Linked DNA regions of Homo sapiens: region 2 is linked to region 1. A link means that fine-mapping ties the variant in region 1 to the expression of a gene that starts in the linked region. Tissue or cell type: whole blood. Region 1 holds a variant in brackets; the other region holds the start of a gene. All regions are shown on one strand. Distances are between the middles of the regions.

What was found. PIP is the estimated chance that this variant, and not a neighbour inherited with it, causes the effect.
Region 2: RTL6 starts here. The variant in region 1 is fine-mapped to the expression of RTL6 in whole blood (INTERVAL, PIP above 0.99).

What each region holds. Positions count from the first base shown.
Region 1 is chr22:44,455,023-44,463,125 of GRCh38, forward strand. No RefSeq gene overlaps it. Among named protein-coding and RNA genes, the nearest start is that of LINC01656, 16 kb to the left of the region's middle. RefSeq lists an enhancer at 565-714. The variant A/G (reference allele first, on the strand shown) is at 4,997.
Region 2 is chr22:44,494,978-44,503,080 of GRCh38, forward strand. It overlaps RTL6 (retrotransposon Gag like 6), which reads right to left and starts at 3,256. Exons shown (of 2, transcript NM_032287.3): 1 at 3,067-3,256; 2 at 1-2,834. The coding sequence starts at 2,579. The coding sequence ends at 1,860. RefSeq lists enhancers at 372-1,149, 1,150-1,927 and silencers at 3,187-3,316, 3,407-3,466.

The DNA.
Region 1 (8,103 bases):
AATCGTCACCTCCTAGCATTATTCTCCCTTCCCACCGTCCCCTATGTCCGTTTCGATGTCCAAGTAAACTGGCTCTACTCTCAGTCCCAGGGCTGGAGCATGTGATCTGATCTGAACCAGTCAGTGTATTCCATCCCCTGGCCTAGTAATTGGTTCCAATTTGGGGGTGGACTGAGATTGGTCCGATAAGAGTAATACCAGCCTCTGAGGAATGACTTGGACCTGTAGTGATATTTGCATGAGACAACGAAACTCTGTCTCTCTCAAAGGATGTTAATGAGGAGGCATGCAGGCCTGGGAGCCACTGGCAGACCTCTTTGGACTCTAAAGGGAGCCAGCTTTAGGATGAATCTGATGTCATAGAAAGGAAAGTAGAGGGAAAGCAAAAAACAAAAGTAGATATTCTGTTACATCATTGAACGGCTGAGTCACACTTCACCTGAGCCTTTCGGTTTAGCAAACGAATGTCATCTTGACATTTACTTTAAAAGCCCATTTGGGTTCTTGTGGTTTCCTGTTCTTTGCAACTGAAAACATCCTGAGCAGGTGGCTACCATTATTATCCAGATTTTGAAGATAAGAAACTGTGGCACAAGAATATTAAGTGATAGGCCCAGGGCTACCGGGCTGGTAAACAGAGGTGGTAAACCCAGAACATGCAATGGTAGCCTCAACATATAACGATTGGCCACTTGCCATTTTCTTCTGCCTTTAGGAGGTTGGTCCTCTGCACTTCTGGTCTCCACTTGACACCCAGGAGGAGGTACCATCACACCCCAGGACCTGCTGTGCTGGCGTTGTGTTTCTGCCGGAGTCACCTCTGTGAGTCGCGGGAGAGCCAGTCACCTTCGTATGTGTGCACACGCATGCACGGTCACAGAGGAACGTGCCTCCAGGGGTTTACCGTGCATGAATACCCGGACTATTTGGATGCTTTTCTTCAGGTTCTGTAGTTCTCATGGTCATGAAGCCCTCCACTAATAGCAGTTCATTTTCTTGACTTATCTTTACAAAAATAGGGTCATAGGATTTTCCCACTTTACAGGGTGAGCAAACAGAGGCTCAGATGAGAAACCTGACTTACCACTGGTGGCAGAGTGGGAAGTCAAATCAAGACATCAGTCCAGCATTTTTGACTCATCCACTCGATCATTGGTTTTTAATCTTAAGACGACCATGACCCACACTCAGGGCAGAGAGTGAAATGGAGGGAGAGAATGAAAGCTTAAATTTAGGTTTAGAAATAAGCAGTCCAGGCACAGTGGCTCATGCCTGTAATCCCAGCACTTTGGGAGACCAAGATGGGCAGATCACCTGAAGTCAGGAGTTCGAGACCAGCCTGACCAACATGGTGAAACCCCGTCTCTACTAAAAATACAAAAAAATTAGCCAGGCGTGGTGGCAGGTGCCTGTAATCCCAGCTACTCAGGAGGCTGAGGCAGGAGTATCACTTGAACCAGGGAGGCAGAGGCTGCAGTGAGCCGAGATCGCACCATTGCACTCCAGACTGGGCAACAGAGTGAGACTCTGCCTCAAAAAAATAAAATAATAAAATAAAATAAAATAATCAGCTCTCAGTCCAGGAAAAAACCCTGGCTGGAGAGGGCCTAGATGTTCTGCACCTAGAATGATGGAGCCCTAGACAGGGCTGAAACATCTGTTGCTTCCTGATGCTGTTCAACCTGCTCCTGAAGATTCAGATGAGCCTCTTTCCAGAGGCTCAGAGGGTACATACGAACAGTTTATTCCTGGGACACTGAGTTTCGAGATGCCTTCCTGTTCAAAAAGAAGGCTGGGAGTAAAGCCTGGTAGGGGAGGTGCAGATGTTGGTCGGGACCCTTCAGATAGTTGTAGAGGGGGATGCAAGCTGGAGGGGAGGTGGTGGAGGCCTCAGGGACCCGGGGAGAAGGCCTGGATGGGCAGAGACTCTGGGAAGGGCCTGGAAGCCTGTCCGCAGATGTTCCTAGAAAAGCCCCATCATCTAGTTCTCCTAGACCCCAAGCAACTTTATAGAGCACATTTTAAAAGATATCATCTTGGGCAAAAGCTCCTTTTGTTCACTAGATCTTATTGAAAGCATCCCCAAATTTTAAATTCTTCACTTTGAATGGAAATCATATAGAAATATTATCACTATGTGCACTGAGATTTGGATGACCCTAAATCATCATTTTGAAGAAAAATGCTGAAAAGGCAATTATGTTTGAGCTAAAATAACAAAATGCATTAAACGTAAGCAGAATGAGTAAAATATCCTTACCCTTTCAAAAGAGAGAGACAGAAGAAAGGGCTCTGGCCCAGCACTTAACAAATCTTGGTTCTGTTTTTTTGTCACTCATTCATTCAACTCTTCATTCCTTTTTTTTTTTTTTTTTTTTTTTTTTTGAGACAGAGTCTCGCTCTGTCGCCCAGGGTGGAGTGAAGTGCCACAATCTCGGCTCACTGCAACCCCTGCCTCCTGCGTTCAAGTGATTCTCCTGCCTCAGCCTCCTGAGTAGCTGGGATTACAGGCGCCCGCCACCACGCCTGGCTAGTTTTTGTATTTTTAGTAGAGACGGGGTTTTACCATGTTGGCCAGGCTGGTCTTGAAATCCTGACCTCAGGTGATCCTCCCATCTCAGCCTCTCAAAGTGCTAGGATTACAGGCGTGAGCCACCATGCCTGGCCTCTTAATTTAATAAGCATTTGGTGAAAGCCTGTCTTGAGTTACGTACTGGCTATAATCCACAAAGAAGCTTCAGCTCCTGACCCGAAGGAGTTTACAGTGTAAGGTGCATTCAGTCCCTCAACCAACAATTGCACCATAGGCCGTGCTCTGTAAGGGATCACAGAGTCCCCCGGCTGAACGAGTTCAGGGACAGCCTTTCCCGTGATCTGACATTTAATGCAGGACCTTAGAGATTTTCTAGAAAAAGGCAGAAGGAAGCCTGGAGGAGAGAAAAAGTGATATCTTGGAACATGCATCTATATCTGGTGTGACTGCAACCACGTGTAGTATGTGGTGTGGCGTGTGTGTGTGCATGGGTGTGTGGCGTGTGAGTGACGAGTGTGCTGTGTGTATGTCTGGTGTCTGCGTGGGGTGTGTGCATGCACGTGTGTGCATGTGTTGGCACACAGGGAGGTTAAGCATGGTGGGAGGAGGATAAGCACGGTCCGGGTGACATCGGAGACATCCCTCCTGCAGCTCAGGGAGCCCTGGGGAGCTAGTGTGCCCACTGGGAGCATCTCCCTGTGCCACCTCCTCTGGGCCCATCTGGACTGGCTCCAAGGCAGGATGGGAGGGCTGAGCTCGAGCTACCCTATCTCCCAGCTGTGGGATTTCTCTAGGCCCTGCTCCCCTCAACCTCAGGTGGCTGTCTGAGAATTCAGTTTCTAAAGACTCCATGAGCCACAGGCAAAAGCCAGGGTCCTTACTCAGTCACAGCCTGAAATTTGGCTGTCGGCCTCCAGGCTCTGGTCTCTTAGCAACCAGCCATGTGGGCCCAGGGCAGCTGCAGGGCTCTGCTCCAGGCGGGCTACACCCAGGGGCTTTGGAGTGGGTCCCCAGGCCACCTCTGGCAGCTGAGGTGTGAGGACGGCCAGGCACCGTCCCTCTAGCCTTGACCTCACTCTCCTGGTTCCACCCCCAGCCCTGCTCCTGCACCTGAGCTGGCGTAGGAGTGCTGCCACAGCTCTGCCAAGCCCTGGGCGATCGGCCCGCGGGCCCTGGTGGAAAGAGCCTCTCTGAGCAAAGCTGCTGCATTTTCTCTTCTCCATGTTCAGTGTGCCCCACATGCTCACGTCTTCCTACCAAGCCCCCAAAGGCTCCAGCTTCTGCATGAGCTCCAGGGACCGTCAGCCAGGTGCTCTATTCCCAAGGGATGAGGGCTGGTGGACCCCATGCCTGCATCTGCCCATCTTCATCCTACATATCCTTCCAGGCCCAGTTCAGACACCACCTCCTCTATGAAGTCTTCCCCAGTGACCTTGTAGAAATTTCCCTTCACACGAGCCCAAGAGGCACCTCACTCTCATTCTGGCTTTTGCCCACAACTCAGAAGCTGGCATTACCTCTGCACCCACGAAGCCAGTCTTCCAGGTGCCCCATGTGGCATGTGGGCTTTCCTGGCTTTTCTTCTCATCTTCACTGACTGGGAAGTTGGTTCAACGGCGTCTCACCCTTGACAGGCTCAGAGACTGTCTTGCTCCAGGAAGTGAGAGAGAGAGAGTGTCTCAGAGAAGACCCTGATTGGCCAGTTTGGGTCACATGTCCGCCTCTGAGCTACACCCTGTGGGCAGCCCCAGGCACACACCTGCTGCTAGGATCTGCAAGCCCTATGATACAAGGCCCTACCAAGAGCACCACCTGTGTTGGCCTATTTTTTCAGTGCCCCTAGATACCTCTTCTAGGTCATTTCTCAGATATTACAAGTAGGCTTGCTCCCAATCTACTTTCCCCAACTGTTTCCTGCCCATCCCTCCATCCACTGCACCCTTCCCTAAGGCCAAACTGGCCCCTGCCTTCTTTCCCAACTCCACTCACCTCTGTCCCTCCATGCCTGCATCTGCCATCTTCATCCTAAATATCCTTCCAAGCCCAATTCAGGTACCTCCTCCTTTAGGAAGCCTTCCCTGTGCCCATTCAGAAGTTTCCTTTCATACAAGCTGCATCCCACCTCTTGTTCCTCTATTCTCCCTCATGCTCTGAGTCAGAAATACAGCATGTAACACACTTGCCCAAGATTCCGGTCGCTCAAGGGCAAATCTTGTTCCCCATTTGGACCTGGACTGGCCCTGAGTCTAGGCATCCCTTTTTGTGTCCCTTTATTTCAATGGAAGAAGACACCACATTAGAGCATGTAAGGTGGCCTGGGCGTGGTGAAAGAAGACCTGGACCCTCCTTCCAGGCCTCTGCCTCATTTCTTTGTTAATTGGCTATTATTGAGCAGTTGCTATGTGTCTGAAACAATTTTCGGCTTTGAGAAAGTAGTCTTCAACAAGTTTCTCTCTTCATGAA[A/G]TTCACATTCTAGTTTGGTAAAGTGGATAATATGTAAAAAAATAAGTAAATGTTCATGATGCAGATGGTGCTAAGGGCTATGAAGACAGGTAAGGCAGAGGAAAGAACAAGTGAATGCACCCAGTAATTCATCCATCTATCCATCCAGCCGTCCACCCATCCATTCGCCCACCCACCCATCTACCCTGCTACTCACTCATCCATCCTTCCATCCACCTACCTATCCATCCATCTGTCCTTCCATTCTCACACCCATCCACCTACCCACCCATCCATCCACCTGTCCATTCATGAATCCACTGGACTCATCAACCCATGTAGTCATCCACTCACTCATCCATCCATCTACCCACCCCCTCATCCATTCACCCACCCACCCATACATCCACCTACTCAACCATCCACCCACCCCCTCATCCACCCATCCACCCACTCATCCACCCTTTCACTCGTTCATACATCTACCCGTCTATCCACCCACTCACCCACCCACTCATCACCCACCCACTCATCCATTCATCCACCCACCCATCCATACATCCACCTACTCATCCACCCACCCACATACTCAAACATCCACCCACCCCCTCATCCATCCATCTACCCACTCATCTTTCATCCATCCACTCATTCATTCACCAATCCATCCACCTACCCATCCATCCATCCATCCAGTCACTCAACCATCCATCCATCCACCATCCCACAATGACTCACGAAACACCAAGCCAAGCCTTGTGTTGAGTACTTTAACTCAGACATGGTTCTTGATATCAAGGAGCCCACATTCTGGTGAGGGATGTGGGTGTGGATGTGCAGTATGCTGAGTTTCTCAATTCACTGGGTTCAAGTGAAGTGCCATAGTAATGAAAGTGAAATTGAAATTAATTCTGACCCCAGAACCCAGGCTTCAAAGAAGAAGAGCTTGACAAGGCTCGCTAGGGATAAGCAGGAGCTCACCACTAGGGCCAGGGGAAAGGCATTCCAGGAAGAGGAAATAGCAAAGCCTCAGAATGCTAGAAGAACACGACTCACTTAGGCAACAGAATCATCTGAAATGCCTACAGTATCAGCTAAACAGGGATGGGGCGGGGCCAGATAATAAAGAGCCTTCAGTCCATGCCAAGCAGATTATTGGGGGTGGTGGGGGCAGCAGGGAAGGCACTGAAGGGTTTTAAGCAAAGGAGTAACATAAAGATTTTTGGAAAGCCATGTCGGCATGCACAGAAAGGCTGGATGGAACATGTATTGACATTCAATGAAGGTCCAAGCAGGACATGATGGTCCAGGCAGGACACAATGAAATGGTCTAGGCAGGACATACTAGAAGCTTAGACTATGACACAGAGACAGAGACAGAGATAGAGTTAGAGATAGAGATCGAGATAGAATGGAGGGGAGAGGGAAGAGCTTCACAAGGGAGGGTGTTTGAGGGAGAAGGGATGTAGGTGCGTGACGAAGCCATTACTTGGATGGACAGTAGAGGCGGAAGAGGAGGTCTGAGGGTAGAGGATGGATTCCACTTAGGGGCCATTGCAGGTGAAGTACCTTTTATTTATCTGGGAGAGTATGCCAGGAGTGGCTGAAAAAACTGGAGACCCTTGACTTCTGTAACACCTTGTTCTCCAAATTCTTCTGTCCCTCCTCACTCTTAGGAGGGCTCTGGTTCTTCAACCTGCCTCTCTCTAATGCTGATGTCCTGGGCTTTCTCTGGATGCCCTTCTCCTCACCCCAGGAGGACTCATGCTTGGCAGGGCTTCATTTCTTACCTGCGTGGGGATAACTACCAGAGTGGCACGTCCAGCATCTCTCCTGAGCTCCAGAGACATGCAGGATCACGCTGGGCCAGTTAGCATCACAGAGTCCAGCAGCTTAAGCAAGTAAGGAGTTTTGTCTCATGGAAAAGCCCAGAGATCACATTCAGCTGGTTCAGTCCAACAATGTCATCAGTGCCAAGGCTCCCTCCCTCCTGTCACTCCATCATCCTCTGCCTGTGACTTTGATCCCCATGGTCACAAAATAGGTGCTAAGACCAAAACACTACCTCTGCATTCCAGGCAGGAATTTTTTTATAACACAAAGTTCCAAAAAAGGAAAATGGCAGCTGGCTCTGGTCCTTTTACAAAGCTTTTCTAAAAGCCATCCCTAGTGACTGTCACTCACATCTTTTTTACCGTAACAGTGCCATCAGGCCACCTCTAACTGCAAAGGAGGCTGGGAGAACCAGTGCTCTAAATGGGCATATCGCAACTCTGACCAAAATCAGGGAGAGTAGCTATTAGTTAGGCAACTGGCAGCATCCACTACCACCTCCAAGCCTTTATTCTGTCTTCGGTTACCTCCAAAGACACAGAGTTCTTTCCCCCCCAGGGTCGCATACAGCAGCTGGGTCACCTGAGAGGAGGCCACAGAATCCCCAGCCTGGGCTTCTCAGCCCACCAACTCCTGCTTCTGGGGTGAAATCTGGGGTCTGGCAATTTCACAGGCTCACCAAGACTGTCAGTCTTATCAAGAGTGCTTGGAGGCCAGTCATCCAACCGGACCCGCTCATTTTCCCCAACATGTCTTGGTAATAACGTTTCCTTAAACATCACCATCAGGATCCTCTCCAAGACAAATCACCGCTCAGACCACACAACAGCTTTTCTGTTATCTCTGCGTAACCGGCCTCCATGGTGTGATAAACAGCCCAGGATTGAAACATTGCTTCTGCAAATTGAACTCTGCGGGGCCGGAGGACTACCATTACGTTAATTATATTCCAAAATTTTCCATTTATCTCCTGCCCGCCACTCCAGGTCCCGGGCGGATCCATTTGCATTTATGAATGCACAATTCTGGCACCGGCAGCTGGTGCTGGATTGTTCTGCCTGCATGGCTTCCTCTCTGAGATGCTCTCTCTCAGCCATCTCTGGGACCTCTGCTCTTCCTCCCTCCTTGTGGGTTTACTTGAAGGAGAGCCTTGCCAGGGAGCAAACTCTTTGCTTTAAATATACTTCGGTTTGACTCTCCAAAGATGAGGTGGGCCCGGTGGCCTCTGAGCCAATTACCATATTATGCTAATCCTGACATTAACATATTACCTGCATAATGGCTGGTCTATTTTT
Region 2 (8,103 bases), 40 kb after region 1:
AAAGAGAAAGTGATCTGTACACCTCCCATTCATGGAATGGTGGCCCTGCTGTGTGTCTTCCCTCCGATCACGCTTAAAGAGCACCATGGTCCCACCTGAACAGCCTTGGCTGGAGTCCAGGGGAACCTAAAGCCTGTATTCAGGCAGTTGTTCAGCAGGGCAATTGGGCTAACAGAGTTGATGGTGAGTGGGTGGCAGTAGTCTGCGGACCCCAGCAACCACTGAATGTCCTTGACCTTGCAAGGCAGCGGTTCTTCAGAATCGCAGTCACTTTTCCCAGCATCATCAAAACTCTTAAGAAGCCAGGCCCAAGGACCCAATCTCTGGGATCCCAAGACATATACATGTCTTTAGGTGGGTGCGGAGGTTGTCCTTCTGCAATCAAGCCAAGACCCTTCAGACAGGGGCAGCTGAGCCCAGGATAGGAAGCCCTATGGTCCAGGTCATGTCAATGTGGTTCATTTGGCATTGAAATATGGCGGAACAGCACAGTCCAAAGGGCGTGGCCAAACTCAGCCACAAAATGATTTCTTGGTCATCCCCCTGTGAGGAAGGATGAGGTCCTTCAGAAGGAGGACATGCATGCCAGTGCTGCATTGTCACCACACTAGGACCACGGCAGTCCACAGCTCTTTGCTTTTACAAATGCCACCAAGACCCTGGCTGGGTTGCCAGAGGCAGACACCCCCCCCGGCCTTAAGTGCTTAAGGATGTTTCCCGAAGGGAGTCTGTTTTCCCTTGGACAAAGGCAGCCCATCTGATTGCCCAGGCACGGGGAGTACATGCTACAAGGTGCCTTTGGAGACCCACAGATGGTGCGTGGGTGGCTGCAGGGCTGCAGTGAAGGCCACATGGCACCTGAATAGAGATGGGAACAGGTCTCAAGCTGGGCAAGGCTCGCCATCAGTGACAGGGGGTAGAAGCAGGAGTGACTGAGCATCAGCCGCTGTGGCACTGCCCATGGAGATCCTGGGCAGCAAAGGGAGTCGCTGGTATCCACCCTTAGCCTGCTATGACCCTCAGGCGTGGGTGTGTAGGAACCTGCAGCCTGATAGACCTGCCCAATGGCTGAGAGTCCACCACGACCTTATTTAGCAGGCAAGTTCCAGATTCCCCAAGCCTCTGGCTCCATCAGAACACCAGCAGCTGAAGTCAGGCATTAACAGAGGTGCAACATTGGTCCTTCCCAGTGAGAGCAGTGGGGCCTCCCAGACTGCATATTCATGTGCAGAGTGGAACCTGGCCCCCAGACATGGCAGAACTACGCTCCTTGCAGCAACCACTCGACCACTACAGCACAGATGAGGCCCTGCCCGCTGCACCGGGCCCTGGCAGGGCTGGGAGGCATCTTGGGCAGGAAGCCAGACCCCCTCTCCAGGTACACCCATCAAGCCACCAGCCTGGCCAAACGGGCATCTTTCTGTCCAGAGCTCATCAATAGGAACTGGGCAACCAGGTGGGGAGCCGCCAGGGGAGCTTGGAGAGGGCAGAGTAGGAGCCTCCATGAACCAAGTCAGGCTGGAAGGGGTCAGCCCTCGTGGTCCGTCAGCGTGCGGCGGAGTCCCTGTGCCTAAGTAGCAGAGCGGTAGTCATTGAAACAGGCCGGGATGCCAGCAAGAGGGAGGCGAGCATGCAGTGAGCGATAGGTACAAAGCTAGCACGTAAGAGGAAGCACGGCAAGGTGGGCAACCAGGGCGCCAGGAAGGACGGAAGGAAGATCTCCTCGGGGAACACGTCTGGAGAGGCAAGAAGGGAGGTCTTCAAACAGGGGCAAAGCTGTCGTATGGGCATTTCTTCTACACAGCAAAGAGCGTATGCTACCTGGGTGGCTGCAGACGCTACCAAGTGCTGGCGGATTCTTAAAGATTCCGTGCTCGGGCAGGCAGGGCTGGCGCTGGACTAGTCCCGTTGGAAGCTGGATGCACTGGGCAAGGCCCCGTGCCCGCAGAGGCCAGCTGGCGGCAGAGCATCTGCCTCTCTCGCACAGCCCTATTAGAGGCAGAAGTCTTCCTGATTTGGGCGCGCCGCGCATGCCGGAGCGGAGACTTGTAGGTTCTCCGCAACTCTGCCAGGAACCCCTGATAGTTGTTGCGCAAGGGGCTGTCAGGTTGCATGTGGGGGATAGCCCACTTCTCCGCCTCCCCAGTCAGTCGAGACACAAGGAAGGCCACACGCTCGGCCTCACCCGGGAAGCGGGAGGCCTGGAAGATCATGAATCTGTCCATCTGCATCAGGAACCCCGCCAACCGGCCTGGGTCCCCGGAAAAGGGCTCGGGCAGAGAGGTTGGAGGTGTGGTCATGGGTCGAGTCCCGTTTGAAGTAATTGAGGAGATGGGCGGGGTGATCTGCAGAGCCCCCGGGATCCGCGCCCTGGTGCGTAACAAGGTCAGCTCTGCCATCACGCTCTCCAGCATGTTGGTGAGATTGGCCTTCTCCGCCCGCAGGGTGGAAGCCTCCCGCCTCAGCGCCGAGTTGGTGAGGCGCAGGGAGGTCAGGGTGTCAATAACGTCATCCATCTGGGCATTCGGAGACGCTGCCAAGGCTGGGCTTTCAGCTTTGGACGTCTGCGGCTGCACCATGCTGGCCAGAGGTCAGCCACACGCTGAGATCCGCGGGTGGACCAAGAGGGTGTGGTGACCAGGTGGGCCCCTGTAGAAATGGGGGCAGTGTGGGGTGCACGACGGCAGGGCGCTGCGAGACCCCCAAGCCGAGGGCCCGAGAGAGGGGCACGCGGTGCCAGGCCCTAGGGACTTCGGCCCCGGTCCCACGCGGCTCCTTTACTGCAGACTTCGCGGACTACGGAGCCAGACGGGTGGCTGGACCTGCTCTGGGCCCTGGAGGATTAAGAAAAGATGTTTTCAAGGTTTCAGTTGCGACTAGCGGGCAGGAGGGTGAGGGGCGGCGTGGAGGGCCCGCGCGTGGGTGGCGAGGCTGCACAAAGCCCCGCGGCGCCCGCCCCGCGCCCGCCCGGGGGAGAACAAAGGGGGCTGCTCCTTGGCGGCCGCGGGCCTGGGGGCCACCACAGTGGCGGGGCCCGGCCGGGCAGGGGGCCGGGGGCACGCGTACCTGGGGTCTCGCGGTTCCTCCGCGGCTCTGTCCGCCGCCGGCCGTGACCAAGATGGCCCGCGCGGGGGACGCGGCCAGGCCGATGAATCACCGCGCGGACCGCCGAGAACTGCTTCCCGGTCAGCGCAGCCAAGCGACGGCGCTGGCGATGGCGGCGGGCGGCCTCCGGCAGGTGCAGGGACCGGGCCAGGCCGGGGCCGGGGCAGGGGCGGGGCCGGGGTCGCGGCAGAGGGCGGGTCACCGCGCGGCCTTTGTGCGGGCGGGGCCGGCGCGGTGGCGGTGGCGGGCGGGCCTTAGGCTGGCCCCGCTGGTTGCCATGGATACCGACCGCTCCCGCGCGTGCGGAGACGACCGCTGCCCCGCCCCCGGAAGTGATGCACAAAGTCCCACCCCCCCCCACCCCCCAACTCGGGCTGCTGCCAATCGGGGAAGACTGTAGTTGCTGCGGCGTCTTCATCAGGGCGGGTACCTGGTGTTCTCCCAGTCATTCCTCCCAAGAGGGCTTGCAAGGCTCTTTCTGTGGTTGTCATTGGGTTTATTTTTTTGATGATTTACTGTTCTTCTTATTTTTTTTTTTTTTTGAGACGGAGTCTCGCTCTGTCGCCTAGGCTGGAGTGCAGTGGCGCGATCCTGAGTCACTGCAACCTCCGCCTCCCGGGTTCAAGCGATTCTTCTGCCTCAGCCACCCAAGTAACTGGGATTACAGGCGCGTGCTACCATGCCCGGCTAATTTTTGTATTTTTAGTAGAGACGGGGTTTCACCTTGTTGGCCTGGCCAGTCTCCAACTCCTGACCTCAGGGCATCCGCCTGCCTTGGCCTCCCAAAGTTCTGGGATTACAGGCGTGAGCCACTGCATCAGGCCCTTATTGTGATTTGAATATAAATTTAATGTAACAAATCTTGATGTAAGAGAAGTAAAAAAAACTTTATACTACTCAGACTCCCTCCACCTAAAGATAGCAAATAGTAATACATATATATGTAACGTAGAGATAGTAATATTTCTGTACTTCCATCCAGTCATTTTTCTATGATATGTTCTACAAAATATTTTTTACCTTATGAATATTTTGTAACCATAACAGCACATTGAATTTTGAGCATTTTCCTATTAAAGATAGTTCAGAAGCATGATTTTCAGTTATTGCCTGTGGTCCATGGAACTCCTGTACCGCAAAGTATTTAGCCATGCCCTTTTTGATAGATCCTTATCTTGTTTACCATGCTAAAGTTTTATAAACTACACTTGTATATAAATCCCCACCCTTTTCTCTGCTGGGTTCCCCAGAGTAAATACCAAGGAGTGAAGATACCTGGCTGATATGGTTTGGCTGTGTCTCCACCCAAATCTCATCTTGAGTCGTAACTCCCACAATTCCCACATCGTGGGAGGAACCTGGTGGAAGGTGATCGAATTATGTGGGCAGGTCTTTTCTGCACTCTTCTTGTGATAGTGAGTGAGTCTCAAGAGATCTGATGGTTTTAAAAAGGGAAGTTTCCGGCCGGGCACAATGGCTCACGTCTGTACTCCCAGCACTTTGGGAGGCCAAGGCGGGTGGATCACGAGGTCAGGAGATCGAGACCATCCTGGCTAACATGGTGAAACCCCGTCTCTACTAAAAATACAAAAAATTAGCCAGGCGTGGTGGTGGGCGCCTGTAGTCCCAGCTACTTGGGAGGCTGAGCCAGGAGAATGGCGTGAACCCAGGAGGCGGAGCTTGCAGTGAGCAGACATTGCACCACTGTACTCCAGCCTGGGCAACAGAGCAAAAGTCCATCTCAAAAAAAAATTAAAAAAAAAAAAAAGGGAAGTTTCCCTGCACAAGTTCTCTCTTTGCCTGCCGCCATCCATGTAAGACCTGACTTGCTCCTCCGTGCCTTTCACCTTCTGCCGTCATTGTGAGCCTCCCCACCACACAGAACTGTAAGTCCAATAAACCTCTTTCTTTTGTAAATTGCCCAGTCTCAGGTATGTCTTTATCAGCAGCGTGAAAACAGACTAATACACTGGCCAAAGGGTAAGAACTGTTTGATTCCGGGTCTGGATTCCCAGCTTGACCTAGGTGATCCTTCTGCATGGTCAGTTTCAAGCTGGCATGGCTGGAGAGAAAAGATACTGAGAAATAAAAATAAAAATTTAAGCCCCCCCCCCCCAACCAACTGAACAGACCCCCTCTTGGCCAGGGGACCCCAGAGAAACCTGGGAAGCCGAGTTCCTGGCCATGATGGGATGGGAGGTTGGACACACTTCATTATCTGCCCCCGCTCCATAACCGATAACCACCATTAGGCTTTTTTCCTTAAGAGTTAAACAGAAACAAGCCTCTTTGAAAGACTTCAACATTGATACCAACCAACCATCTGACACTGCCCCTCCCTTTTTGTGGCACACAACAACTGACCAGCATTCTTTCCTAGTAAGAGACCACCAACCCTGGAGTGGTTCTGGCCAGCCTGTGGAGGATGTGCAGTGAAAGCTTTTGTGTCCTCTGATACACCTTTTGACATTAGAGGGCTGAAAACTCCACCTTCAGATCACGCTAACACTGCCATTTTTTGTAGGTGCTACCCATGAAGGGGGATGAAGCTCAGTTGCACATGTGCATATTTCTCTTCTCATAAATATTTATAACTCCTCCTGTAGCTTATTGAATATGTATATTTGGCCACCCTGATCAACATAAATTCCTGTCTTACTCTTCCAACCCTTGAAGTGCCTGTTTATGGCTTCTGGCCAGAGGCTACACTTCCCAGCCTATTCAAATGGCCACTCTGCAGGGTGCAACCTTTTATGATAAATAAAACTCTCCTTTCCAGGTTTATGAACCTCGTCATTCTTCAGTTAACAATACCCAGTATGCCAGTCTTTTGAGGACACAGTATTCAAGGAGGCTGAAGCTGGGAACCATCTGCACTCTTTAGGCAGGCCTGGGACAGAGCTGGATTCACTCAGACCTGCAGTTTTCACTCAAGGGAATTAGGGCATAAGGATGTTGTTACTGAGCAAGTGGTCTTGCTGCCTGATGCACACGGAAGCCGATACATATGGCACCAGCTTTTGAGAAAAGAAAAGCTTTATTGCAAAACTGACCAGCAAGGAGAGAGGAGGTGGGCTCAAATCCGTCTCCCTGATTTGAGGTATGGGGCAAGTTTTAAGGGATCAGGTGGCAAGAGAAAGTATTTATCAATGCTGGCTTGCCAGGGTCTGATTGGAGGGCTTCAAATTTGACCATATGTGGTAATGTATATTAAAGTAGATTTTAGCCCCAGACCTTCCAGGCTGATGGACCCCTTTGCTTGTGAATGAGTTCTGGTTTTCAACTTCTGGTCATGTCCCAGTCTTCTTGGTTCTAAGAGGACGAATCATTGGTTCTGGGTGTTGTTGGAGGTCAAAGTTTTTTCTACGGCACATGCCCAGGCTACATGACTTGCAGTTTTGGGCTCTGTTCTACCTAAAAGGCAGCTTGACATTTTGTTACCAACAGGGTAGGCCCAGTTTGGGCTGGTCCCACAACTACAGTGTCAGAACTTGGAAAGGATACTTGTACCCCAGTGTGCCAAAGTGTGCACCCTTTGTGACCAGGTGAAAACTTCTAGAGCATGAAGCAAGAGGGAAATAAAGAAGACTGTGTGTCCTTAAACTTCTTCCATGAGACCTTCTAAATCAGATGGGGGCAGGAGCTGTGTTAACCTTGACTGAGGTCAATGACTTCAAAAGCAGAAATGAGCCTGCAGCCTTCTACCCCTCCAGGTTCTTCTAAACACACAGAGGAATCCCATCCACTCGTGGGAGTCACTCCATCTGTCTCTCTGTCTCTCTGTCTGTCTAGGCCCCTGGATACTGGGCACATTAGTGAAGTGTCTGCTGCAATTCTAAGTGTGGTTGACACCATGAATCTTAAATTCCCAGGTGCATTGAATATAAGATGCACCCCAATTTCAGAAATGATAAAACATTTAAAGAAATAAATAATTTATCTGTATTTCACTTTACTTCCAAGGGGAAATTAGATGGCAGCCCATAAAATAGAGCAAAATAAAAATTAATGGACTTTTAAAAGTAAAAACAGGAGAAGAATATTTGGCTTCTCATCCAGATGAAGCTATGATTCATGCCCTGAGGTGCCTGTCTGGGCTGTGAACACAGAACAATAAAATATGCAAAGAAAATATTGAAAGGATATAAGTGGGCTCCAATCGATAAACAAGATAAACTTCACAATGGTCCAGAAACACAAACTTCTGAGTATTGACGTGGGCCTGCCGGGCTCTGGACCTGAGACATAATAGGGACCCAAGGCTGGGAACACAGCCAGGCTTCCTATTTGAATCCAGGGGATGGAGGAGAGAGGAGTCACCCCTGTGTCAGAAAAAAAGTCTGAAAAATTGGATTCAGTCATTTCATGGGGGTGGGGTGTGACAGTTTATGTGAAAGTGTGGCCCTGGGTCAAAGGAGAACACAGATATAGTCATCTTAATCTCTTGTCCCCTGGTTTAACAAGTAGACCAAGAGGGTCAGGATTCCAAACCACCAACAAAATATATATACACATATATATTATACACATATATGTATATATGTATGTATATGTGTATGTGTGTGTATATATAATATGCATATATGTGTGTGTATATATATATATTTCTTTACCACAGACCAGACATCAAGTGGACCCACCCCAAACTGCTAGATGGGGGAAGGGAGTACCAAGAGAGAAAGAGAGACAAAGTCTTTCAACACAAAATGAGTCTGAGATTCAAAATTCTGAAGCCCATGAAGACATCTTATGCTAAGAATAATAGTCAAGAAAAATCAATAACTGTAAGGTGAATTAACTCCAGAGGAAATTAAAATAATAGAAGAGTCTGAAAAAAACAGACTTTAAAGTAAGTATATTTGGGATGCTCAGTGAGAACAAGGAAGGAATAATATTTGTGAAAAGAACAGATTGTGGAGAAAAAGCCATATTGTACCAAGATCAGGTACCTGTGAAAAAGTACCTTTTAAAAGAAAATGTAGTTGATTTCCATTTCCA